2 linked regions of the Homo sapiens genome follow. Each later gene encodes a partner of the first gene's protein in a complex. Each region holds a gene or a part of one and is shown on either strand. Other genes may lie near its edges.

Region 1 (16,279 bases):
CTGCGCCTGGCCATTGTTTACTTTTTTTTTAAAAGGATGCTTTACTGTGGGTAGGATCTGGTAGATTTGCTTTAGCACAACAAAGAACTAGATTTTAGAGAAAGTGAAGTAATTGAAACATTCTAGAGAAAATACAAATCTCAAGTTTTTTTGGATGTTTTTTGCCACTTTGTATTCATTTGCGGACATGAATACCCCTTTCCTAAGTATGTTCCTCAAGGGCGCATACTTTGGAAGCTATCTCTACTGTGTTACATTTTGAGATTCTACTTGTTACAGTTCTATCCAAAGTGAGTTTTTAATTGAAGTGTCATTCTAGTTATATATAACTAAATGTTGGGAAAGTGCCTCATGCCTCCTTTGCATTATTTATAGATCAGACAAGATTGAAGCACCTCTGTTTCTCTTTTGAGTGTCTGGAGGAATACCTTAGGTTGAAATAGTTTTAGGTATTTGGCATTGTCTTTTAATACTGATACAGCAATGAATAGTTTCTCTAGGTTAAATAGTACTGTAGACTTTATATTTGTATGTGGACTTATAAAAATGGGTTAATTGATGTTAACAGTTGAAGAGGCATGAAGTTAATTGAAAGCAACTTCAAGTTTCTTAAATGACCCTGATTCTAGCCAACATCTACCTTCATTTTGGGGAATGAAAAAAATCCATTTGTAAATGATGATAATCTAGCTAGGGAAGCATGATCTAAACTTGTGAAAAGGTGATTAATAGCTACTACTTGAGTGCTTGTTAAGGGACAGGAGCTTTGTTAGATGCTACGTTATCACCTTTAAATTCAGCCTCAACAACCCTTTCTGCCAGGTAGTAGAAAGAAATAGACTTGCCTGAGGCCATACAGCTAAACATCCCAGCCCTAGTTTGATGCCAGGTTTCTTTAGCTGAGGTCCCTATTGTTAGACATAACAATTTAAGCCAACTGTACAAGTTACGTCACCAGGTAGCCTGATAACTTTAAATTATGTAGTGGTTTAGGTAGTGTTAAAAGAGTTAAGGAAGTAGGTCCTATCTGTTGCCAAAATATTTTAGCATCTAACACTTTTTATCTTCTTCGCTGCTACTACCCTAGTTAGTCTAAGGTACCATTTGTACCATTCAGACTACTGAAGAAACTTAGCTAGTCTCACTGCCTTCTGTTGCCCTTTATATTTGGCAACATCAATTAGATCACAGCATTCCTGTGCTGAAAAATGACTTACAAACAAGGCCCTATCCAGACAAGTTCCTTCTTACCTCTTTCCCCACTCTTCCTTTTAATTACCCTTTTAGCCATGTTTCGCCTTCTTTAAGCCATGGCCTTTTTTTTTTTTTTTTGGAGACACAGTCATGCTTTGTCACCCAGGCTGGAGGGCAGTGGTGCGATCACAGCTCACTGCACCCTCTGCCTCCTGGGTTCAAGCAGTTCTGCCTCAGCCACTGAGTAGCTGGGATTACAGGTGTGTGCCACCACGCCTGGCTGATTTTTGTATTTTTAGTAGAGATGGCGTTTTGCCATGTTGGCCAGGCTGGTCTCGAACTCCTGACCCCAAGTGATTTGCCCGCCTCAGCCTCCCAAAGTACTGGGATTACAGGCGTGAGCCACCGTGCCCAGCCAAGCCATGGCCATTATCATTTTAAGGCTGCCTTCTGCTGTTCTGCTTTCGTAGGGGTTGAAAGCAGCCCATTTATGACTGATGCTTTCTTTTCAGGTAGGGTGACATTGAGCACCTTACCACCCAGTTGCCCCCATGACAGTATTCTAAGAATGATAAAATAGATTTTGCTTGGATGAGCTTGTAATTATTTTTTGACTTTGTAAATTATTTACATGTCTTTTCCCATTAGAATATGTATATATTTTTCCTTTTTCCCTAACATTTAGAACTGTGCCCCATTATGTAGTAGGTGTTGGATAAATAACCTGACTTGCTGACCAGTGCTCTCTAATATTCTTATGTAACTCATGGACCATTTGCTGTTTTAATAGCCTCCATTTACAATTCTGTGCTACTTACTGCCCTGTGATTAAGGTAAATTAGTAGGTGATGATGCTTTCTTCCCTTACCTACCTAGGGGTTGTTTGGAAATAGACATGTTGATTTAAAGACCATGAAGAAGGGCAGGCAGGTGTGTTTATGTATTTGTGTGGTATGTTGCTGGAATTGGAGCCCAAGGCTGGTGATGCTGCAATTCCATGACAATCTTAAATAACGGAAATATCCTGATGAAATGCTAATAATGTCTATGTACAAGCATTGGAATAGATGAAATCTGTTTGCACGTTACGATTTTTTTTGTTTGTTTGTTTGTTTTTGAGATGGAGTCTCGCTCTGTTGCCCAGGCTGGAGTGCAGTGGCACGATCTCGGCTCATTGCAAGCTCCACCTCCTGGGTTCACGCCATTCTCCTGACTCAGCCTCCGAGTAGCTGGGACTACAGGCGCCTGCCACCACACCCGGCTAATTTTTTTGTATTTTTAGTAGAGACGGGGTTTCACCGTGTTAGCCAGGATGGTCTCTATCTCCTGACCTCGTGATCCGCCTGTCTCAGCCTCCCAAAGTGCTGGGATTACAGACGTGAGCCACAGTGCCCGGCCCACAAGTTATTTTAATAGCTCTGATGGTTCTGATGGTTTTAGTCACCAGATTGGTTATGTATACTGTCATGATGTGTATACAGCTTTTTTTTTTTTTTGAGACAAATCCTCACTCTCAACGAGGCTGGAGCACAGCGGCGCTATCTCAGCTCACTGCAACCTCTGTCTCCTGGGTTCAGGAGATTCTGCTGCCTCGGCCTCCCGAGTAGCTGGGACTACAGGAGCCCGCCACCATGCCTGACTAATTTTGTTTTGTTTTGATATGAATCTCGCCTTGTTGCCCAGGCTGGATTGCAGTGGCATGATCTCGGCTCACTGCAGCCTCCGCCTCCCAGGTTCAAGCGATTCTTCTGCCTCAGCCTCCCGAGTAGCTGGGACTACAGGTGAGCACCACCACGCCTGGCTAATTTTTGTGTTTTTAGTAGAGATGGGGTTTCACCATATTGGCCAGGCTGGTCTCAAATTCTTGACCTCGTGATCCGCCCACATCGGCCTCCCAAAATGCTGGGATTACAGGCATGAGCCACCGCACCCGGCCCTTTTTTTTTTTTTTTTTTTTTTTTGTATTTTTAGTTTGTTGACCAGGCTGGTCTCAAACTCCAAACCTTCAGTGATCCATTTGCTTCGGCCTCATGAACAGCCATTTTGATGAATGTAGTTGACAAGGTAGGTTCAGAGATATTTTAATAATAATTTAGCAAATAGTGTGTTTAGCATGAAAACTTTTACTTCAGATATACAGGTTCTTAGAGAGTTTATAGAACATGAAAGACTACTGTTACAGTGGAATCCAGTGGTGCAAAGCGTAAAGGAAGGATGAAGGGAGACTGGATTAGGGTTGTCAGAGAAGGCTTTGCAATAAAGAGGTTTGAGCAGCACAGTGAAGAAAAAAGGTGAATCTAGTTGAAGCAGTGTTTTGTGGAAATAAAACTTGTAATAAAGTCAGTGCCAGGAGTTAGTTCATACTGGGCTAAGCTGCATAGCACCCCCCACCCCCTTTTTGAGCCCTGATGTGGGTGGCATGTTGTAAGTGGCTGAATAATGAAGATTATTTGAATAAAGACAATAAAGGCCAGGAGGAGGGTGGCAGCAATAGAAAGGAGAAAGATCGGAGATTTTGGAAAGAGAAATGAAAGGCCATAGTGGTATGCTGTAGGTTGTATTCTAGTTTTTATCAAGAATTGAAAGTGTAGTTGGACTGTTCATGATACGTTTGGTAACTTGAATCTCCATTCAGTGATAAATGCCTTGGATGACCGTCAGGATCTGAAAAACTTTTGATAGCCTGAGATAGAAAGTTTATATCTACCAAGATGGAATTGACTAAAGTTAAGTATTTACACTAGTTTAACAAGCTGTGGTGTCAGTAATGTGTGGTTGCCAAATAACCTAGGGTAACACAGACAATATGTAAGAGTGGTATGGTGTCTAGAAGTGGAAAATTAGTAATAAGCTCCAGTTTATTCTAGACTCCTGTTTCAGTCTGCGTTTACAGTATTGTGTTAGAATGTCACTCTTCAGTGACACTTGTCAGTATTTCTTGGAGGTACTTTAGTTTGCCATTATCAGGGAAGCAATGATTAGCCAAGCATAGAAAACAACTGAGTCATGTGCTTGTGTGCCAGGTATATGAAATGCTGTCATTTGGGGGAAAGAAATAGGTTTATTTAAGGAAGTAGATTTTGGCTTATTGTAAAGAAGACTTTATAATTAAGAAATCTTTAGGCCAGGTGCGGTGGATCATGCCTGTGATCCCAGCATTTTGGGAGGCTGAGGCGGGCGGATCACCCGAGGCCAGGAGTTCGAGACCAGCCTGGCCAACATGGTGAAACCCTGTCTCTACTAAAAATACAAAAATTAGCCGGGTGTGGTGGCACACGCCTGTGGTCCCAGCTACTAGGGAGGCTGAGGCAGGAGAATCACTTGAAACCGGGAGGTGGAGGTTGCAGTTAGCTGAAGTCGCGTCACTGTACTCCATCCTGGGTGTCAGAGTGAGACTCGGTCTCAAAAAGAAAAAAAAAAGAAATCTTCAATGTGGAAGGCTTTGGAGGTAGGGGCTTTGCTGAGAAGAGTTAGGACTAAGCAGCCTCTTCTGGATCAGATTCCAAATTTGACATTGCTGAATTTCTGGGAATTTGGTGACTATGAGGGAAGGACTTAAAAGTGACTTAAAATTTTGAGACTTGATGACAGGAACGTTCCAGACTGTACTACTGTTTTGGTGTTCTTAAAAACTGAAACCTCACATTGATTAATGATCATAATTAATCTTCATTTTCTATTTGGTTCATCTCAGCTGTGGTACTGAGCTTGAAGGCTAGATTTTTACAACTAACAAGATTCAGGGCCAACCTTTCTAGAGTAGGAAAGATAAGACTTTTTGTGTGTGTGTGCTCGTTTTTTTATACCACTGTAGTGTCCTGATACACTTCTTGAGTTAGGGTTTACTAGTATTAAATTAGAATCTCTTATTCACATTTGTTTTTTGTATTACACCATTCACCATATAACTCACTGTTACCCATCTTGCTGGGATAAGTGTTTTTTTGTTTTTGTTTTTTTTTAGGTGATAGAGTGGCATTAGTGTAAGAAAGGTTAAGCAATTCAAATACACGTACAAAAAAAGCATGCGTAATCCGTAGATGGGGTGTTGCTTCCGGAAATGTTAATTTCTAGGTACTACTTTTGTTATAGTTGTACCCAGAGTCTCCTTACTTTGTTCGCTTAATGACTTATTTTCATTGGAGAGCCAGTTGACTCTCTGTGTTACCTGTAATACAATTGTTCCAAGTTTTTTTTTTTTTTTTTTGTAGAGATGGAGTCTTGCTCTGTTGCCCAGGCTGGAGTGCAGTGGCGCGATCTGGGCTCACTGCAACCCCTGCCGCCCAGTTTCAAGTGATTCTCCTGCCTCAGCCTCCCGAGTAGCTGGGATTACAGGTGCCTGCCACCACTCCCGGCTAATTTCTTTTGTGTTTTAGTAGAGACGGCGTTTCACTGTGTTGCCCAGGCTGGTCTCGAACTCCTGAGCTTAGGCAATTCGCCCGCCTCAGCCTCCCAAAATGCTAGGAGTACAGGCATGAGCCACCGCGCCTGGCCCAAGTTTTTTAATTGAAAAAATGTGGGTAGGGAGGAATCAGCAGTTTATTTTATAGATCCTGCTAAATCTTTGTGTTATTTATGTTGTTCAGAGACCACATCCATCCTTTGTACTTTCTACCTACCATGCCTTGGCTAACTTGATTAGCATCAGGGCTAGTGATGATGGGTAAGAAGGAAAAAAATGGTGTTTCTGTAGATAATAATGGAAACAGTTATTAATAATTTGAAGCAGCATTGTTAATGTTGATGGTTAATGGAAGTGTTGCCTATGTTACAGATTAGCTGTCTTCTCTATATTTCTTTGATTATTGTTGCCTTGATGGAATGTTTCCATTCTCTGTTGTCTTGCCTTTGCCTCCTACATTTCTTATAAGGATTTTGGTTCCTCTCAATGGTGTATTTTCTTGGTAGAACTAAGAATTCAAGTTTCTGTTAGAAGTTTTTTTAGAATTAGGTATTTTCTTATAGTTAATAGCTCCTGATTTTAGAACATTTGGAAAATACCAGTTCCCCCCCTCATTATACCAAAATCTGTCACCCCCAAAATCACTCCTGTTTTTGCCTTTACACACTTGGTATTTCTTTCCACCTTTTTCTGGTATTTTAATTGTTTTTGTTAATTACTAGAATTACTGATTGCATGACCAATTTGAAAACCACTGATTTGTTGCTAAGGCTGGCTACTTGATGCTAGATTATAAGAATCCAGGGAATGTACATATTTTAAAGTAATTTATTGTGTTCTTAGTTTAATTTTACTTGCAAAATAAGGCATTATAATCTACTTGTCCATAATTCTGTGCAATGATGGATTCAGCCATAGCTCTGCTACATTCAGGTAACATGTTTCTGCTGTTAAAAGATTATTAGTCTGGTAGAAGAGAAAGACATGAATGCTATATGAGAAAACAAAGTATATGGCAGGAGTTTTTAACCTCAGCACTGCTGATCTTTTAGACTAGATAATTCTTTGTGACAGGCTGTCTTCTGAATTGTTAGATGTGTATCAGCATCCTTCTGTCTACCCAGTAGATACCAGCAGCAAGTCCCCACTTCTTTCCAAGTTGTGACAATCAAGAATGTCAAATGACTTCTGGGGGGCAAAATCACTCCTGTTGAGAACTGTTGGTCTGTGTTAACATGGAGGAGTATTTTGTTGACCCTTTTAGGATTTATGTATTGTAGTATTGGGTGGTTGAACTTAATTTACAGGTATCCAGAGGAGCTTGTATGGTAGAAGTTTCAGGGAAGGAAGGCAATTTCTTCAGAGCCATAGGAGTATAAAAATTGCATGTGGCCCAGCATGGTGGGTCACACCTGTAATCCCAGCACTTTGGGAGGCCGAGGCGAGTGGATCACAAGATCAGGAGTTTGAGACCAGCCTGGCCAACATGGTGAAACCCCGTCTCTACTAAAAATACAAAAAATAGCCGGGCATGGTGGCAGGCGCCTGTAATCACAGCTACTCGGGAGGTAGAGGGAGGAGAATTGCTTGAACCCAGGAGGCGGAGGTTGCAGTGAGCCGAGATAGTGCCACTGCTGCACTCCTGCCTGGGGGACAGAGCAAGACTCTGTCTCAGAAAAGACAAAAAAAAAAAAACCCTGTATGTTTAAGAGTTGATATAAAAAGGTATTTGAGAGAGAGAGGAGAAAGTAGCAGGAGTCATCTTTTTACTTTTTTTAATGTTGTGTCTCTGGCATAAATGTAGAGAAATAGAAGTAAACCTGGGATCAGGAGGGCCACACACTTGAATAGCCTGTACAGAATAGTGGGGTAGAAAGCAATAAATTTTTCTGAACTGGAGGTATGGTATTTGAACTTTATTAAATTTTGATTTTCTGGAGATGGGGAAGGGACAGGGAGGACTCAACTTTCTGACTTACATGTTTTCTTCTGTTATACCCGGTGTACCTAGCAAGGATGGGCATAATAGAAGAATGGTTTCTTTTGCTGTAAGGTATTTCTATAAAGTTGTATGGAAATTGATGTTGGTTCTTTAGTTTGTGTAGCTCCACGTGTAGAATAGATTTTGAGGTTAGGTGTGGGAGGATTAATCAATAATTATTGCCGCTGCTGCCGCCATTATTAGTAACAAATTTTGAGGTGTGGTTTTAACTAACCCATATAATCCACTTTTCTAGATTACTTGGATACTTTTGCACTTGGGTTTGTAAATAATACTAATTGGTGGATTTGTCACTTTGACATGTTGCTTTTTGCCTCTGCTTTCTGATAATCTGGGATATGGTTACTCGAAAATTCAATTTACTTTTTACTGTAGTTTTAAAGTTGTTTCTGTATATTTTTGCCATGACAAATCTACTTCTCTTTCTCCTTCATAATTTGTTATATGCATAATGAAAATGAAATGGGGAAAAAGTACAGTTGGATTTAGAAATAAAAGCTGTTTTTTTAGGCTTAAATATTTGAAGCCTGAAATTTCTTATTACAACTTTTGATAAGAGGAAGGGAAGATGGAAAAATAGATTTAGGTGCTGGTTAACAGAACGGCAGAGATCTTGCTGATCTTGGGATCAGTTTTCCTTGTATGAGAATAACTGGTTGATGGGATGAACTTAAGTAAAAGTTAAGTTTTTGAGGAACTGGCAGTTTTTGAATTTAAGCTGCTGCAGATCTGATTTCTAATTAATCAAGTAAAGGATTTAATAACCTTTTATTTGCATTAAATTGGTTCATGAACTTGTCCAATGGGTCTTGTTAATATAATCTGTTCCTCATAATTCCCTTGTATGGGAATTAAGGTAAACTACTTTTTAAAGGATGATTTGCTCTTGTGTATCTTTTATAATTAACTGTTCTAGTTGTATAAGTAATTTAAAAACATGATGCACTTTTTCCCCTTTCAGTATAATAATCATGAAATTCGTTCTGGAAAACATATTGGTGTCTGCATCTCAGTTGCCAACAATAGGCTTTTTGTGGGCTCTATTCCTAAGAGTAAAACCAAGGAACAGATTCTTGAAGAATTTAGCAAAGTAACAGGTAAGTTGGATTTATTTGGAATGAGGTGCAGCTTTTAATAATGAAGATTAATAGCATATTTCTGTGCGTCATGCATTGTTCTAAATACATTTATTGACTCATCGAATCCTCACTACAACTTTTGAAGTGTAGGTAACCCCATTTTTCAGATAAGAAGAACAGGCATTCAGGGATTTGGGAAATAACTTGCCAAACGTTGTACAAGTTAGTAGGGAATACAGCTAGGGTTTGAATTCATTCTGCAAAATCATTGTTCTTCCTATGTTTTGGAAGATCGTATTTCTTTGTGTGTTCTTTCTCTAGGTGTTAGTTGATGTTCTTAGTAGAATTGTTTGAATAATGATTTGATGTTCTTGAAATTACAGGAGTAGTAAGTATTGCCGTAGCAGAGTGTTTTTTTTTTTTTTTTTTTTTGGAGACAGTCTTGCTTTGTTGCCCAGGCTGGAGTGTGCTGGTGTGATCTTGGCTCCCTGCAGCCTCTGCCTCCCAGATTCAAGGGATTCTCTTGCCTCAGCCTCCTGAGTAGCTGGGATTACAGGCGCGCACCACCACACCTGGCTAATTTTTGCGTCTTTTGTAGAGGTGGGGTTTCACCATATTGGCCAGGCTGGTCTTGTACTCCTGACCTCAAGTGATCTGCTTGCCTCGGCCTCCCAGAGTGTTGCGATTACAGGTATGAGCCACCGTGCCTGGCCCATAAACAGAGTTTATATATTGTCAACATGGTAAAAAAATTTTTTGAACTGTAACAACTTTTAAGTGACAGGTTGCTTTTAGAAAATATTTTGGTCTGCCAACAGTGTCTAACAAATTATCAGCCTGTTATCAACTTTCAGGACATTGGAAATTTTTATGCAGTACTTATAACTTCTATTTTATTTGAAATAAAGCCATTGATATCTAAGGCCAGAAAAGTGCCATTAAAAATAATTTTAGTGTTTGCATAATAAGAAAAATAGCCATATTTGATCTATACTGCCATTTTCTTAGAACAATTATATGAAAATTTTTATCTGCCTCTCTGATCTAATTAGTGAAAACAAAAGTAGTCCTTACCTCTAAAAAGAGCACATGTTCTTTTCTGGAGATTTCTGTGTTGAAAAACTTGGAAACAGATTAGGAAAATAATCCGGACCTAGTTTTTGATAGTCTTTTATAAAGATGTCTAGTGAAGGAAAGAGATGATTTTTCATTTTGATATTTAAGTAGTATCTTAGATAAATCCTTTGATCCACTTGTATTTGCTAGTTATTTCATCTAATTTTCCTGGAATGGTTGCTTACTTGCAGAGGGTCTTACAGACGTCATTTTATACCACCAACCGGATGACAAGAAAAAAAACAGAGGCTTTTGCTTTCTTGAATATGAAGATCACAAAACAGCTGCCCAGGCAAGGCGTAGGTTAATGAGTGGTAAAGTCAAGGTCTGGGGGAATGTTGGAACTGTTGAATGGGCTGATCCTATAGAAGATCCTGATCCTGAGGTTATGGCAAAGGTAATGATAGTCAAGTTAAAAATATTTTTTGAGGGATTAATGGGAGAAGGGCCGGGGTTGGGGTGGGGGGAACATAAAATGAACAGTATACATTTTTTTATTTTTTGAGACAAGAGTCTCTTGTTTCCCATGTTTCCCAGGCTGGAGTGCCATGGTGCCATCTTGGTTCACTGCAACCTCCGCCTCCCGGGTTCAAGTGATTCTCCTGCCTCCCAAGTAGCTGGAATTACAGGCTCCCACCACCACACCTGGCTAATTTTTGTGTTTTTTTTAGTAGAGCTGGGGTTTCACCATGTTGGTCAGACTGGTCTCGAACTCCTGACCTCGGGATCCACCTACCTCGGCCTTCCAAAGTGCTGGGATTTAGAGGCGTGAGGCTATTGCACCTGGCCCTGGACACATTTTTTTTTAAACCATATTTTTAGAGTTGGGAGAAATGTTCTTTACTACGGGACTAGGCAGTGCGCACTGGAAATACCATGTGCCTGCAAAGTGAAAATAGAAATTGATGCGTGGATACTTAGCCATAATTGTATAGCCATCACAATCTTGTAATGAAGTCGCCTACATGCTGTAGACAGTTGACTTCCATTTTGTGTGTTTTTTAAGAGCAATTTGAGTTTTTGAGAATGGCACCATTAGTTTACATGGTTTTGGGGTTAAAAGTCTTACTACTAAAAACAGTAAATTATACTGGCCGCAGCAGAGGTGCTTGCAGTTACATTTAGCCATTATTAGGTATCCTGACTTCAGCAGTCAGTGGAGACATTGTATAAGAATAAACATCCCTTGAGTCAACACTTTATTACACACTGGTGCAGTAATTTGCAGTTATTTGTTCTATCCTTTGTTCTCTTTTTTTTTTTTTTTTTTTAAGTGACAGGGTCTAGATCTGTGGCCCAGGGCTAGAGTTCAGGGGCATGATCATAGCTGACTGTAGCCCCAAGCTCAAGAGATCTTCTCACCTCAGCCTCCCAAGTAGCTAGAACTACAGGTGTGTACTACCACACCTGGCTAATTTTTTTAAAAAATTTTGTAGAGGCAGAGTTAATCTCCCTGTGCTGCCCAGGCCGGTCTTACAATTCTTAGCCTTAAGCAATCCTGCTTCCCAAAATGCTGGGATTACAGGCATGAGCCACCATGCCCCAGTTATCCTTTGTCTTTTAAGAATTCCCTCTTTGTTACTTACAGGTTAGGTGTCAGACACCACTAGTTGAGTTAAATTGAGGGTAATATGAACTGCCAGGGAGCTATGAATATTATTGAAGGATAAGTGGTCTTAGAGAAGAGAAAATAGTTAGGATTCATTTTTCCTCTGGCCTATAAATTCTCATTGGGTTAGCACTTTAGATTAACACATTCAGATGGTATTCAAGTTATTTTAGGAGGAAGTGATAATGTTAGTGAAGAGGTTAAATTTTGTAATTTTACTTTGAGAAGCTTTCAGGATTGAGAACAGTTTGTCTTACTAATATTTTGAACAGTCCTTCCCCCTTTAAGATTTCAAAAGCAGGTCCTAATTAGTTTTGGCCACTCTTGTTAAGTGTTAAACATTCAATAACTCTCTTAGAGGGCATGGTATTTACTTTGTTAGGAAAAATTATCTTTTTTATTGCAAAATAATTACTAATTGGTAATTATTACTGATGTAGCCTGTAGTCTGCATTTTCTTTTTCATAGACTTCATTAGAGCAGTTTTAGGTTTACAGCAGAAAGCACAGAATTGCCATATGACTTCTGCCCCCTACACAGGCACAGCCTTCCTCACTACCAGTATCCTGCACTGGAATAGTACATTTGTTAAAATTGATGGACGTAGATTGATTACCTAAAGTCCATAGTTTACATGAGGTCTCACTCTAGATGTATGTTCTGTGGGTTTGGAGAAATGTATAACCGTGTTTCCATCATAGTATTATACAGAATAGTTTCACTGCCCTAAAAATCCTCTGTCCTGTGCTTAGTCATCCCTCCCCATTCAACCACTGGCAGTCACTGTCTCCATAGTTTTGCCTTCTCAGAATGTTACATAGTTGGAACCATACATTATGTAACCTTCACATTGGCTTCTTTCTCTTAGTAATACATATTTAAAGTTCTTCTATGTCATTTTGTGGCTTTTAACTAGTTTCTATCAGTTATAATATTCCTTCTGTATGTGCCACAATTGTCCATTCTCCCATTGAAGAACATCTTGGTTTCTTCCAATTTTTGGAAATTTTTTTGTTTTTCTTTTGAGACAGAGTCTCGCTGTGTTACCCAGGATGGAGTGCAGTGGCACGATCTCGGCTTACTGCAACCTCTGCCTCTTGGGTTCAACCATTTCTCATGCTTCAGCCTCCCGAGTAGCTGGAACCATAGTTGCGTACCATCGCACCCGGCTAATCTTTGTATTTTTGTAGAGACGGGGTGTTACTGTGTTGGCCAGGCTGGTCTCGAGCTCCTGACCTCAGGTGATCTGCCCGCCTCAGCCTCCCAAATTGCTGGGATTACGGGTGTGAGCCACTGCGTCTGGCAAATTTTTGGCAGTTACAAATAAAGCTGCTATTAACATCTCTCTCTAAGTTTTTGTGTGCATGTAAGTTTTCAACTCTGGGTAAATAAGGAGCAGGATTGCTGGGTCATATGGAAGTGTGTGTTTAGTTTTGTAAGAAATCGCCAAACTGTCTTTCAAAGGGGCTATACCCTTTTGCATTCCCACCAGCAATGAATGAGAGTTTCTATTGCTCTGCATTCTTACCTGCATTTATAGTGTGTTGGATTTTGGCCATTCTAATAGTTTTGACTTGCGGTTTCCGAATGACAGATTATATTGAGCATCTTCATGAGATTCTTTGCCATCTGTATATCTTTTTTGGCAAAGCATCTATTTCAGGTCTTTCAACATGATCCAGCAGTTCTGCTGCTTGATATTTACCCAAGGAGTTGAAAACTTTTTTTTTTTTTATATTCTGACATTCTTCTAATGGATTGTGATTTGAGTTAACTTTGTAGGGTGGGGTGGTGGTATCTTAGAAATGGAACTCTTTGGAAATAATACAGGGGGGTATTTTCTTCCCCCTAGGTAAAAGTGCTGTTTGTACGCAACCTTGCCAATACTGTAACAGAAGAGATTTTAGAAAAGGCATTTAGTCAGTTTGGGAAACTGGAACGAGTGAAGAAGTTAAAAGATTATGCGTTCATTCATTTTGATGAGCGAGATGGTGCTGTCAAGGTAAATATGGTGGAATTACAGGCATCTAAATCAGACTAACAAATTTAGTCATTTTAGAATCTCAAAATAGTTTTACAAATTGGAGGAGACTTTGGAAGTCCATGGAATCCATTCAAACTAAAACCTTTTGGTTTTAGTGATGTTGGCAGTTTTCTAAGTAAAAATGAAAAATAATTGAATATCTGCATCTTTAAATAAAATTATTTGACTGCCTGCATGGGGCTTTCTCTTGTCCTTCCCACATTAATGATAAATGATATTCCAACTTTAAATGAATCATAATTGTATGAAAGTCCTATTTTTATATTGACTTATCTAATTTTTTAAGGCTATGGAAGAAATGAATGGCAAAGACTTGGAGGGAGAAAATATTGAAATTGTTTTTGCCAAGCCACCAGATCAGAAAAGGAAAGAAAGAAAAGCTCAGAGGCAAGCAGCAAAAAATCAAATGTGAGTGAAATTTGTATACTTAAAAATTGTATAAATTTTAATATTTATACACTAATTGGAAAATAACAGGTGTTGATCAGACTTGTTAAATGCATAACATCTCTTTAAAGAAGACTTGAACGTTTGAGAGTCATAGGGAAACACCAGTGATCTAAGTGTTTATTGAACTCTTACTATGAACCATATTTGTGAAAATAATCAGAATTGTAAATAACTGGAATTTTGGTAAATTGGCAAGATGAAAAATCTGTCTAGCTTTTTTTTTGTTTTGTATTGGGTGACAGAGTCTCACTTTGTCACTCAGGCTGGAGTGCAGTGGCACTCTTTCGGCTCACTGGAACCTCCACCTCCCGGGTTCAAGAGATTCTCCTGCCTCAGTCTTCTGAGTAGCTGGGTTACAGGCGCCACCATGCCTGGTAATTTTTGTGTTTTTTTTTTTAGTAGGGGTGGGGTTTCGTCATGTTGGCCAGGTTGGTCTCAAACTCCTGACCTCAGGTGATCCGCCCACCTCTGCCTCCCAAAGTGCTGGGATTACAGCTGTGAGCCACCATGCCTGGCCTATCTCACATATTTTCTTTGTATTTTACAGAATGTTCTTCTGAAAATGTCTTAAATATTAGCTGTCCAAATATCTTAATACATTTTGTTAAAGGGTGGAGAGTTTTTTCTCTGAGAGATAGGAAATACTAAATCTCTATTCATGATAGACTGTTTCTTCACCAGTAGTGCTCATTGCCACCCCAAAAATTTCATGTTCGATGGATGGATTTTGAAAATGAAATGAGTATTAAAATTATAACACAGTAGTGCAATAAGAAAACAAGTAGGTGTGTAATGAGTTATACTAATTAGGGAGACCTTTTTAGAGAATCTGTAAATAGGTATCTGCTTAAGACTGAAGGAAACTTAGTTGGGTAAGAATTGAAGTTAGCTCCTAAAAAGTTAGTTACTGATTTCCTAGAAGAGGGGTAATTGTTCTTGAATGTGAGAGCAATAATCACTGTCAATACTATTCAAGGTTAATTTTCTGTTGATTGCCCTGTTTGGAATTTAAAGGAAGAGGATGCTTCTACATATTTCTGTTACTTCATAATCAGGGAATTGATCAAGTTCTAGTTTCTGCAGTTAATTGTCCAGTTGGACAAGTTGGCAAGCTCTGAACCTCAATTTCTTCAGTTCTAAAATGGGATCAGACAAAATTATGTAATAGCTCTGGATTATGTGATTATCCAAGTGACCCATGCTTGTTCTGGGACCAAAGAAAATATACTTTGTAGGTTTGATGATAGTGTAAATGAAGGAAGACTACAAAAAGAGTTAGTTTTAATGCTCTATATTTCAAACACCTGGATATACTAAACAGTGTAAAATAACTTCTTTTTATTTCTTTCAGAAGACGATATATGGTTAATTTATTAAAGTAGAATGTAAGTATAGGAGATTATATTAGATAATGTGATTAGAGCAGTTACATTTGGTACTTGATAGAGGGAGATACTAAATAGAAGGTGGAGGATGTCAGTATATCTGTTAATATTTGAAAAGGAGTACAAACTAAAAGGGATGATTGCATGTTACTTTCGTACTTTAACTTGCTACAGTCTTTTTTTTTTTTTTTTTAAGTTTTAACTAAGCACGTATTCCTACATAATTCTCACTGTATTCCTGTGAGTTAGGTACTCTATCCCTTAGTTTGAAATGAGGAAACTGAGGCTCAGAAGTCAACTTCCTTGGGGTCATTCACATAGTAAGTAGTGGAGTTGGATTTGAACTAAGGTAGTCTAGTCTCCCATAATTTTCCCTCTTAACCACTATACCAGGATTTCTCATCTCTGTCCTCCTGACATTTTGGGCTGGATAATTCTTGGTCTTGGGGGCTGCCCTGTGCGTTGTAGGACTTTTAGCAGCATCCTTGGCCTCTTCCTGCTAGATGCCAGTAGCACCCCCTTTCTCAGTTATGACCGTCTAAAATGTCCCCCTGGAAAGAGGTGGTGGCAAAATTATCCCTGGTGAGAACTATTTAGAAATAGAAAAGGATGATCTTTCCATCATTTCCTCAAAACAATAAACCAGCAGAGCACATAAAAGGTCTAAGGACCTAGTGAACCGGAATAACATTTTTACGTTAGTCAGTTGGAACAGGGGCCTTTAATAATTCAGGATAAAATAAGGCCGGGCGTGGTGGCTCATGCCTGTAATCCCACCACTTTGGGAGGCTGAGGTGGGCAGATCACTCTAGGCCGAGGTGGGTGGATCATTCGAGGTTAGGAGTTCGAGACCAGCCTGGCCAACATGGTGAAACCCCATCTCTACTAAAAATAAAAATTGGCTAGGTATGGTGGCACATGCCTATAGTCCCAGCTACTCGAGAGGCTGTGGCAGGAGAATCACTTGAACCCAGGAGGTGGAGGTTGCAGTGAGGTGA
Region 2 (9,929 bases), on another chromosome or scaffold:
TCACCTCATCTCCTTAACATGGCTCTCTCTGTCTTACAGGGCAACGCAATCTATAATCTCCTTCCAGATATCATCAGCCGCCTGTCAGACCCCGAGCTGGGGGTGGAGGAAGAGCCTTTCCACACCATCATGAAGTATTGCTCCCCGGGCCCTGGGGCACATTTTCCACATAGCACGGGCTTAGGAATCAGACACACCTGTATTTGAATTCCACCTCGGCTACTCTTTAGCTGTACAGCCTTCGGCAATAACTTAGCCTCTCTTTGTGCCTATTTCCTCTTCTTTTGAGGCTGATGATACTTAACCCTTAGTTCTTGAAAATATTAAATACGATAAAGTTCCTAACATGGTGGCAGACATACAGTAGCACTCACTCCCTAGCAGCTGCTCCTGTTAATTTCCATTCACAGTGAAAATTCCTGAGCCGGGGGCGGGGTGGGGTCCCTCTCTGCTGAATGGGACAGGGCAAGGGGAGTGGTGAGGCAGACAGGGGCCGTGGCAGAGAACATCAGAGAAGACGAGTGCTGGGGGAGGGTCCAGGGTTGGTCTTAGTGGATGGCAGAGCTGGCCCTGGGCCATCGAACATCCTCATCTCCCCTTCCTGCAGACAGCTCCTCTCCTACATCACCAAGGACAAGCAGACAGAGAGCCTGGTGGAAAAGCTGTGTCAGCGGTTCCGCACATCCCGGTATGCTGCCCTCCCTGAGGGTTCTTTGTGCTGAGCGGGGCCCTGCAGGGGAGAAAGGCCCATCCCTCACCCCTTCAATGCCCCCACTGTGGCATCCCTGGGACTGGGGAGGCTGATGGGGAAGGTTGAGCCTTTACTAGCTGGATCTCCCAGTTCCTCACAAAGCCCTTCCTATCTGCAGAACTGAGCGGCAGCAGCGAGACCTGGCCTACTGTGTGTCACAGCTGCCCCTCACAGAGCGAGGCCTCCGTAAGATGCTTGACAATTTTGACTGTTTTGGAGACAAACTGTCAGATGAGTCCATCTTCAGTGCTTTTTTGTCAGTTGTAGGCAAGCTGCGACGTGGGGCCAAGCCTGAGGGCAAGGTGAGCAGCACAGGACACTTCAATGCCTGTTGGGTTCTGGGCTGGCTAAGACATCTGCCGGCCCTGGGCAGCATACGGCTCTTGCAGTCACCTTCCCGTCCTCCTTATCCCCAGCTGGGTTGCAACCAAATTGCCAGAGTGACCTAAGACCAGATCTTTGTCTCCAGTTCTTTTTTTATTACTCCAAAAACACAACCAAAGCAGCATCTCATCCAATTCTTGTTTGTTTGTTTTTAATAGTTTTTATTTTTCAGAGCAGTTTTAGGTTCAAAGCAAAATTGAGCAGAAAGTACAGGGAGTTCCCTTCTACCCCTTGCCCCTACACATCACAGCCTTCCCCACCTTCAACATCCTGCACCAGGGTGGCACATTTGTTACAGCTGAACCTACACTTACACATCATCTCCTAAAGTCATGGTTTACCTTGGAGTTCACTGCACGTAATGACATGTACCCACCATTGCAGTATCATACAGAAGAGTTTCACTGCCTTACAAATCCCCTGCACTCCACCTATTTATCCCTCTCTCCCCACAACCCCTGATCTTTTTACTGTTGCCATCACTTTGTCTTTTCCAGAATGTATCATTGGAATGATCCGGTATGGAGCCTTCTCACCTTGGCTTCTTAGTAATGTGCGTTTAAGGCCTCCATGTCTTCCATGGCCTTGTTTCTTTTTAATCAGAAGTAACTGTTTTCAGGCCTGCTCTGAATCTCCTTTTCTCCCTCCAGGCTATAATAGATGAATTTGAGCAGAAGCTTCGGGCCTGTCATACCAGAGGTTTGGATGGAATCAAGGAGCTTGAGATTGGCCAAGCAGGTAGCCAGAGAGCGCCATCAGCCAAGAAACCATCCACTGGTACGTAAGGCAGCCTGTGCGGGCGAGACCAGACTGGGCCCTCCCCTCCTGCAGTGATTTGTTTCTTCTTCTTTTTTAAATCACGTTTTCCTGCCTTTTCTAGGTTCTAGGTACCAGCCTCTGGCTTCTACAGCCTCAGACAATGACTTTGTCACACCAGAGCCCCGCCGTACTACCCGTCGGCATCCAAACACCCAGCAGCGAGCTTCCAAAAAGAAACCCAAAGTTGTCTTCTCAAGTGATGAGTCCAGTGAGGAAGGTATGATGCTCCCGCCTGTTCCCGGCCGAGAAGGCACACAGCTAGGGTGCAGAGGGCTGGTTTCCATAGGACCTGCTGCGGGGGCCTGAGTGTAGATGCTCTGCCCCACTGCCGCAGAAGGGCCTCTCCTGTACAGCTTGGATTTTATTTCTTCTGTGCGGTGTGGGATTGTCTCACTTGTTCTCTGATATCTATTTTTTCACCATCTTTGTGACTCAGCTTTTTCTTATTCCTTTAATTCTTTGCATAGATCTTTCAGCAGAGATGACAGAAGACGAGACACCCAAGAAAACAACTCCCATTCTCAGAGCATCGGCTCGCAGGCACAGATCCTAGGAAGTCTGTTCCTGTCCTCCCTGTGCAGGGTATCCTGTAGGGTGACCTGGAATTCGAATTCTGTTTCCCTTGTAAAATATTTGTCTGTCTCTTTTTTTTAAAAAAAAAAAAGGCCGGGCACTGTGGCTCACGCCTGTAATCCCAGCACTTTGCGATACCAAGGCGGGTGGATAACCTGAGGTAGGGAGTTCGAGACCAGCCTGACCAACATGGAGAAACCCCATCTCTACTAAAAATAAAAAATTAGCCGGGCGTATTGGCGTGCGCCTGTAATCCCAGCTACTCAAGAGGCTGAGGCAGGAGAATCGCCTGAACCCAGAGGCGGAGGTTGTAGTGAGCCGAAATCACACCATTGCACTCCAGCTTGGGCAACAATAGCGAACCTCCATCTCAAATTAAAAAAAAAATGCCTACACGCTCTTTAAAATGCAAGGCTTTCTCTTAAATTAGCCTAACTGAACTGCGTTGAGCTGCTTCAACTTTGGAATATATGTTTGCCAATCTCCTTGTTTTCTAATGAATAAATGTTTTTATATACTTTTAGACATTTTTTCCTAAGCTTGTCTTTGTTTCATCTTTCACATTAGCCCAGTTTCATGCAGCAGAGAGAGGGTTATCAGTGCAGAGAGAGATGAGTGAGCCCAGAGTCCTAGGGCCTGTCCCGGGATGGCAGATGAGCTTCCTGCCCCGTCACTGCCACCTTTCCCCTCTCAACCTCTGGACCCTGCACAGTGACCAGACAGCCTCTCTGGGGAGAATTATGCAGTGCCTAGGCTCCAGATCAGTGCTTCTGAACCGGGGGCAATTTTGTCTGCCAGAGGACATCTGACAACACCTGGGGCCTGTTTTGTTGTCATAGCCTATAGGGGAAGAATGCTACCAGCATTTGTGGGAAGAGGCCAGGGATGTGGCTCAACATCCTGCAGTGCACAGGATGGCCCCTCAACAAAGAATCACACGGCCCACAATGTCAATAGCGTCACAGTTGAGAAAACCTGCTCTAGACCAAGGGTTGCTTTCTGCCGTGTGCCTCACCCCACCCCCACTCGTGTTCCCTAATCCCATCTCCAAAGGTTGGCAGCAGACCGGCCCAGGCTCGTGGAAGTTCAGATCATGATCCCCTCCAGCTCTGCAGGAGACAAGACCTGTCTCCCAGCATTCCTCATTGTTCCCGGGTCTGCAGAGGGCGTGAGCTATGCTGCAGGCGGGCTGCCCCCTGAAGCCTGCGCACCCCTCTCCAGCTCCTCAAGTCTTCTCTGCTGAGTCACCTTCGAACCGGAGGCTGTGAGCTGGCTGTCGTGACCACACTGGTGCCTCTGCTGTCATGACAACAGCACACTACGTCAGTAGTGCTCCCTGGGCACTGAGCTCCCTCTTTGCGGGGAGAAGACAGTAATGAAAAATGACAAGCATGAGGCAGAGGGGAAGATCACGCTTGGGTGGTGCAGGAGCATGGAGGTGCTCTTAATGCTCTCAATGAGAAAGGGTTAACGGTCCTGGTTGCAGGAATAGCTGAGTCAGAGGTGGGGCTTCCTCCACTCCCCCACCCCACCCCTTTCACCATTAGGGACCTTCTTGCCTTGCTCTTGCTACTCTGCTCTGGGTGGTCATTGTGAAAAGCCCGCACCAACCATGCCAGTGGCAGCCAGACGAGGACACAGCCTGGCTCTGGGTCCCAGCAGGAAAGGCAATCCCAGAAAGGCAGGGTCAGGGACTGGAGTCCTGTGGGTGCTTTTTAAGCAAAGATTATCACCAGGCAGGCTAAACTTAGCAACCGGCTTTTAGCTAGAAGGGCAGGGGGCTGGTGTCAGGTTATGCTGGGCCAGCAAAGAGGCCCGGGATCCCCCTCCCATGCACCTGCTGATGGGCCAAGGCCACCCCACCCCACCCCCTTCCTTACAAGTGTTCAGCACCCTCCCATCCCACACTCACAAACCTGGCCCTCTGCCCTCCTACCAGAAGAATGGATCCCCTGTGGGAGGGGGCAGGGGACCTGTTCCCACCGTGTGCCCAAGACCTCTTTTCCCACTTTTTCCCTCTTCTTGACTCACCCTGCCCTCAATATCCCCCGGCGCAGCCAGTGAAAGGGAGTCCCTGGCTCCTGGCTCGCCTGCACGTCCCAGGGCGGGGAGGGACTTCCGCCCTCACGTCCCGCTCTTCGCCCCAGGCTGGATGGAATGAAAGGCACACTGTCTCTCTCCCTAGGCAGCACAGCCCACAGGTTTCCAGGAGTGCCTTTGTGGGAGGCCTCTGGGCCCCCACCAGCCATCCTGTCCTCCGCCTGGGGCCCCAGCCCGGAGAGAGCCGCTGGTGCACACAGGGCCGGGATTGTCTGCCCTAATTATCAGGTCCAGGCTACAGGGCTGCAGGACATCGTGACCTTCCGTGCAGAAACCTCCCCCTCCCCCTCAAGCCGCCTCCCGAGCCTCCTTCCTCTCCAGGCCCCCAGTGCCCAGTGCCCAGTGCCCAGCCCAGGCCTCGGTCCCAGAGATGCCAGGAGCCAGGAGATGGGGAGGGGGAAGTGGGGGCTGGGAAGGAACCACGGGCCCCCGCCCGAGGCCCATGGGCCCCTCCTAGGCCTTTGCCTGAGCAGTCCGGTGTCACTACCGCAGAGCCTCGAGGAGAAGTTCCCCAACTTTCCCGCCTCTCAGCCTTTGAAAGAAAGAAAGGGGAGGGGGCAGGCCGCGTGCAGCCGCGAGCGGTGCTGGGCTCCGGCTCCAATTCCCCATCTCAGTCGTTCCCAAAGTCCTCCTGTTTCATCCAAGCGTGTAAGGGTCCCCGTCCTTGACTCCCTAGTGTCCTGCTGCCCACAGTCCAGTCCTGGGAACCAGCACCGATCACCTCCCATCGGGCCAATCTCAGTCCCTTCCCCCCTACGTCGGGGCCCACACGCTCGGTGCGTGCCCAGTTGAACCAGGCGGCTGCGGAAAAAAAAAAGCGGGGAGAAAGTAGGGCCCGGCTACTAGCGGTTTTACGGGCGCACGTAGCTCAGGCCTCAAGACCTTGGGCTGGGACTGGCTGAGCCTGGCGGGAGGCGGGGTCCGAGTCACCGCCTGCCGCCGCGCCCCCGGTTTCTATAAATTGAGCCCGCAGCCTCCCGCTTCGCTCTCTGCTCCTCCTGTTCGACAGTCAGCCGCATCTTCTTTTGCGTCGCCAGGTGAAGACGGGCGGAGAGAAACCCGGGAGGCTAGGGACGGCCTGAAGGCGGCAGGGGCGGGCGCAGGCCGGATGTGTTCGCGCCGCTGCGGGGTGGGCCCGGGCGGCCTCCGCATTGCAGGGGCGGGCGGAGGACGTGATGCGGCGCGGGCTGGGCATGGAGGCCTGGTGGGGGAGGGGAGGGGAGGCGTGTGTGTCGGCCGGGGCCACTAGGCGCTCACTGTTCTCTCCCTCCGCGCAGCCGAGCCACATCGCTCAGACACCATGGGGAAGGTGAAGGTCGGAGTCAACGGGTGAGTTCGCGGGTGGCTGGGGGGCCCTGGGCTGCGACCGCCCCCGAACCGCGTCTACGAGCCTTGCGGGCTCCGGGTCTTTGCAGTCGTATGGGGGCAGGGTAGCTGTTCCCCGCAAGGAGAGCTCAAGGTCAGCGCTCGGACCTGGCGGAGCCCCGCACCCAGGCTGTGGCGCCCTGTGCAGCTCCGCCCTTGCGGCGCCATCTGCCCGGAGCCTCCTTCCCCTAGTCCCCAGAAACAGGAGGTCCCTACTCCCGCCCGAGATCCCGACCCGGACCCCTAGGTGGGGGACGCTTTCTTTCCTTTCGCGCTCTGCGGGGTCACGTGTCGCAGAGGAGCCCCTCCCCCACGGCCTCCGGCACCGCAGGCCCCGGGATGCTAGTGCGCAGCGGGTGCATCCCTGTCCGGATGCTGCGCCTGCGGTAGAGCGGCCGCCATGTTGCAACCGGGAAGGAAATGAATGGGCAGCCGTTAGGAAAGCCTGCCGGTGACTAACCCTGCGCTCCTGCCTCGATGGGTGGAGTCGCGTGTGGCGGGGAAGTCAGGTGGAGCGAGGCTAGCTGGCCCGATTTCTCCTCCGGGTGATGCTTTTCCTAGATTATTCTCTGGTAAATCAAAGAAGTGGGTTTATGGAGGTCCTCTTGTGTCCCCTCCCCGCAGAGGTGTGGTGGCTGTGGCATGGTGCCAAGCCGGGAGAAGCTGAGTCATGGGTAGTTGGAAAAGGACATTTCCACCGCAAAATGGCCCCTCTGGTGGTGGCCCCTTCCTGCAGCGCCGGCTCACCTCACGGCCCCGCCCTTCCCCTGCCAGCCTAGCGTTGACCCGACCCCAAAGGCCAGGCTGTAAATGTCACCGGGAGGATTGGGTGTCTGGGCGCCTCGGGGAACCTGCCCTTCTCCCCATTCCGTCTTCCGGAAACCAGATCTCCCACCGCACCCTGGTCTGAGGTTAAATATAGCTGCTGACCTTTCTGTAGCTGGGGGCCTGGGCTGGGGCTCTCTCCCATCCCTTCTCCCCACACACATGCACTTACCTGTGCTCCCACTCCTGATTTCTGGAAAAGAGCTAGGAAGGACAGGCAACTTGGCAAATCAAAGCCCTGGGACTAGGGGGTTAAAATACAGCTTCCCCTCTTCCCACCCGCCCCAGTCTCTGTCCCTTTTGTAGGAGGGACTTAGAGAAGGGGTGGGCTTGCCCTGTCCAGTTAATTTCTGACCTTTACTCCTGCCCTTTGAGTTTGATGATGCTGAGTGTACAAGCGTTTTCTCCCTAAAGGGTGCAGCTGAGCTAGGCAGCAGCAAGCATTCCTGGGGTGGCATAGTGGGGTGGTGAATACCATGTACAAAGCTTGTGCCCAGACTGTGGGTGGCAGTGCCCCACATGGCCGCTTCTCCTGGAAGGGCTTCGTATGACTGGGGGTGTTGGGCAGCCCTGGAGCCTTCAGTTGCAGCCATGCCTTAAGCCAGGCCAGCCTGGCAGGGAAGCTCAAGGGAGATAAAATTCAACCTCTTGGGCCCTCCTGGGGGTAAGGAGATGCTGCATTCGCCCTCTTAATGGGGAGGTGGCCTAGGGCTGCTCACATATTCTGGAGGAGCCTCCCCTCCTCATGCCTTCTTGCCTCTTGTCTCTTAGATTTGGTCGTATTGGGCGCCTGGTCACCAGGGCTGCTTTTAACTCTGGTAAAGTGGATATTGTTGCCATCAATGACCCCTTCATTGACCTCAACTACATGGTGAGTGCTACATGGTGAGCCCCAAAGCTGGTGTGGGAGGAGCCACCTGGCTGATGGGCAGCCCCTTCATACCCTCACGTATTCCCCCAGGTTTACATGTTCCAATATGATTCCACCCATGGCAAATTCCATGGCACCGTCAAGGCTGAGAACGGGAAGCTTGTCATCAATGGAAATCCCATCACCATCTTCCAGGAGTGAGTGGAAGACAGAATGGAAGAAATGTGCTTTGGGGAGGCAACTAGGATGGTGTGGCTCCCTTGGGTATATGGTAACCTTGTGTCCCTCAATATGGTCCTGTCCCCATCTCCCCCCCACCCCCATAGGCGAGATCCCTCCAAAATCAAGTGGGGCGATGCTGGCGCTGAGTACGTCGTGGAGTCCACTGGCGTCTTCACCACCATGGAGAAGGCTGGGGTGAGTGCAGGAGGGCCCGCGGGAGGGGAAGCTGACTCAGCCCTGCAAAGGCAGGACCCGGGTTCATAACTGTCTGCTTCTCTGCTGTAGGCTCATTTGCAGGGGGGAGCCAAAAGGGTCATCATCTCTGCCCCCTCTGCTGATGCCCCCATGTTCGTCATGGGTGTGAACCATGAGAAGTATGACAACAGCCTCAAGATCATCAGGTGAGGAAGGCAGGGCCCGTGGAGAAGCGGCCAGCCTGGCACCCTATGGACACGCTCCCCTGACTTGCGCCCCGCTCCCTCTTTCTTTGCAGCAATGCCTCCTGCACCACCAACTGCTTAGCACCCCTGGCCAAGGTCATCCATGACAACTTTGGTATCGTGGAAGGACTCATGGTATGAGAGCTGGGGAATGGGACTGAGGCTCCCACCTTTCTCATCCAAGACTGGCTCCTCCCTGCCGGGGCTGCGTGCAACCCTGGGGTTGGGGGTTCTGGGGACTGGCTTTCCCATAATTTCCTTTCAAGGTGGGGAGGGAGGTAGAGGGGTGATGTGGGGAGTACGCTGCAGGGCCTCACTCCTTTTGCAGACCACAGTCCATGCCATCACTGCCACCCAGAAGACTGTGGATGGCCCCTCCGGGAAACTGTGGCGTGATGGCCGCGGGGCTCTCCAGAACATCATCCCTGCCTCTACTGGCGCTGCCAAGGCTGTGGGCAAGGTCATCCCTGAGCTGAACGGGAAGCTCACTGGCATGGCCTTCCGTGTCCCCACTGCCAACGTGTCAGTGGTGGACCTGACCTGCCGTCTAGAAAAACCTGCCAAATATGATGACATCAAGAAGGTGGTGAAGCAGGCGTCGGAGGGCCCCCTCAAGGGCATCCTGGGCTACACTGAGCACCAGGTGGTCTCCTCTGACTTCAACAGCGACACCCACTCCTCCACCTTTGACGCTGGGGCTGGCATTGCCCTCAACGACCACTTTGTCAAGCTCATTTCCTGGTATGTGGCTGGGGCCAGAGACTGGCTCTTAAAAAGTGCAGGGTCTGGCGCCCTCTGGTGGCTGGCTCAGAAAAAGGGCCCTGACAACTCTTTTCATCTTCTAGGTATGACAACGAATTTGGCTACAGCAACAGGGTGGTGGACCTCATGGCCCACATGGCCTCCAAGGAGTAAGACCCCTGGACCACCAGCCCCAGCAAGAGCACAAGAGGAAGAGAGAGACCCTCACTGCTGGGGAGTCCCTGCCACACTCAGTCCCCCACCACACTGAATCTCCCCTCCTCACAGTTGCCATGTAGACCCCTTGAAGAGGGGAGGGGCCTAGGGAGCCGCACCTTGTCATGTACCATCAATAAAGTACCCTGTGCTCAACCAGTTACTTGTCCTGTCTTATTCTAGGGTCTGGGGCAGAGGGGAGGGAAGCTGGGCTTGTGTCAAGGTGAGACATTCTTGCTGGGGAGGGACCTGGTATGTTCTCCTCAGACTGAGGGTAGGGCCTCCAAACAGCCTTGCTTGCTTCGAGAACCATTTGCTTCCCGCTCAGACGTCTTGAGTGCTACAGGAAGCTGGCACCACTACTTCAGAGAACAAGGCCTTTTCCTCTCCTCGCTCCAGTCCTAGGCTATCTGCTGTTGGCCAAACATGGAAGAAGCTATTCTGTGGGCAGCCCCAGGGAGGCTGACAGGTGGAGGAAGTCAGGGCTCGCACTGGGCTCTGACGCTGACTGGTTAGTGGAGCTCAGCCTGGAGCTGAGCTGCAGCGGGCAATTCCAGCTTGGCCTCCGCAGCTGTGAGGTCTTGAGCACGTGCTCTATTGCTTTCTGTGCCCTCGTGTCTTA

The links.
Region 2: SYNCRIP (region 1) and GAPDH share a complex: the UniProt entries of both Homo sapiens proteins name them as parts of the GAIT complex.

Annotation. Positions count from the first base shown.
Region 1 is NC_000006.12:85,616,393-85,632,671, reverse strand, and holds part of SYNCRIP (heterogeneous nuclear ribonucleoprotein Q), read left to right. Parts: intron 1-8,559; coding exon 8,560-8,695; intron 8,696-9,984; coding exon 9,985-10,190; intron 10,191-13,254; coding exon 13,255-13,404; intron 13,405-13,732; coding exon 13,733-13,854; intron 13,855-16,279. UniProt on the Homo sapiens protein: Heterogenous nuclear ribonucleoprotein (hnRNP) implicated in mRNA processing mechanisms. Component of the CRD-mediated complex that promotes MYC mRNA stability.
Region 2 is NC_000012.12:6,528,906-6,538,834, forward strand, and holds GAPDH (glyceraldehyde-3-phosphate dehydrogenase), read left to right. Parts: upstream 1-5,611; 5' UTR 5,612-5,664; exon of another isoform or gene 5,665-5,904; 5' UTR 5,905-5,927; coding exon 5,928-5,956; intron 5,957-6,358; exon of another isoform or gene 6,359-6,564; intron 6,565-7,588; coding exon 7,589-7,688; intron 7,689-7,778; coding exon 7,779-7,885; intron 7,886-8,014; coding exon 8,015-8,105; intron 8,106-8,195; coding exon 8,196-8,311; intron 8,312-8,403; coding exon 8,404-8,485; intron 8,486-8,678; coding exon 8,679-9,091; intron 9,092-9,195; coding exon 9,196-9,265; 3' UTR 9,266-9,466; downstream 9,467-9,929. Other genes in the region: NCAPD2 (condensin complex subunit 1), read left to right, coding at 40-134, 608-688, 870-1,053, 1,786-1,912, 2,016-2,171, 2,422-2,507. UniProt on the Homo sapiens protein: Has both glyceraldehyde-3-phosphate dehydrogenase and nitrosylase activities, thereby playing a role in glycolysis and nuclear functions, respectively.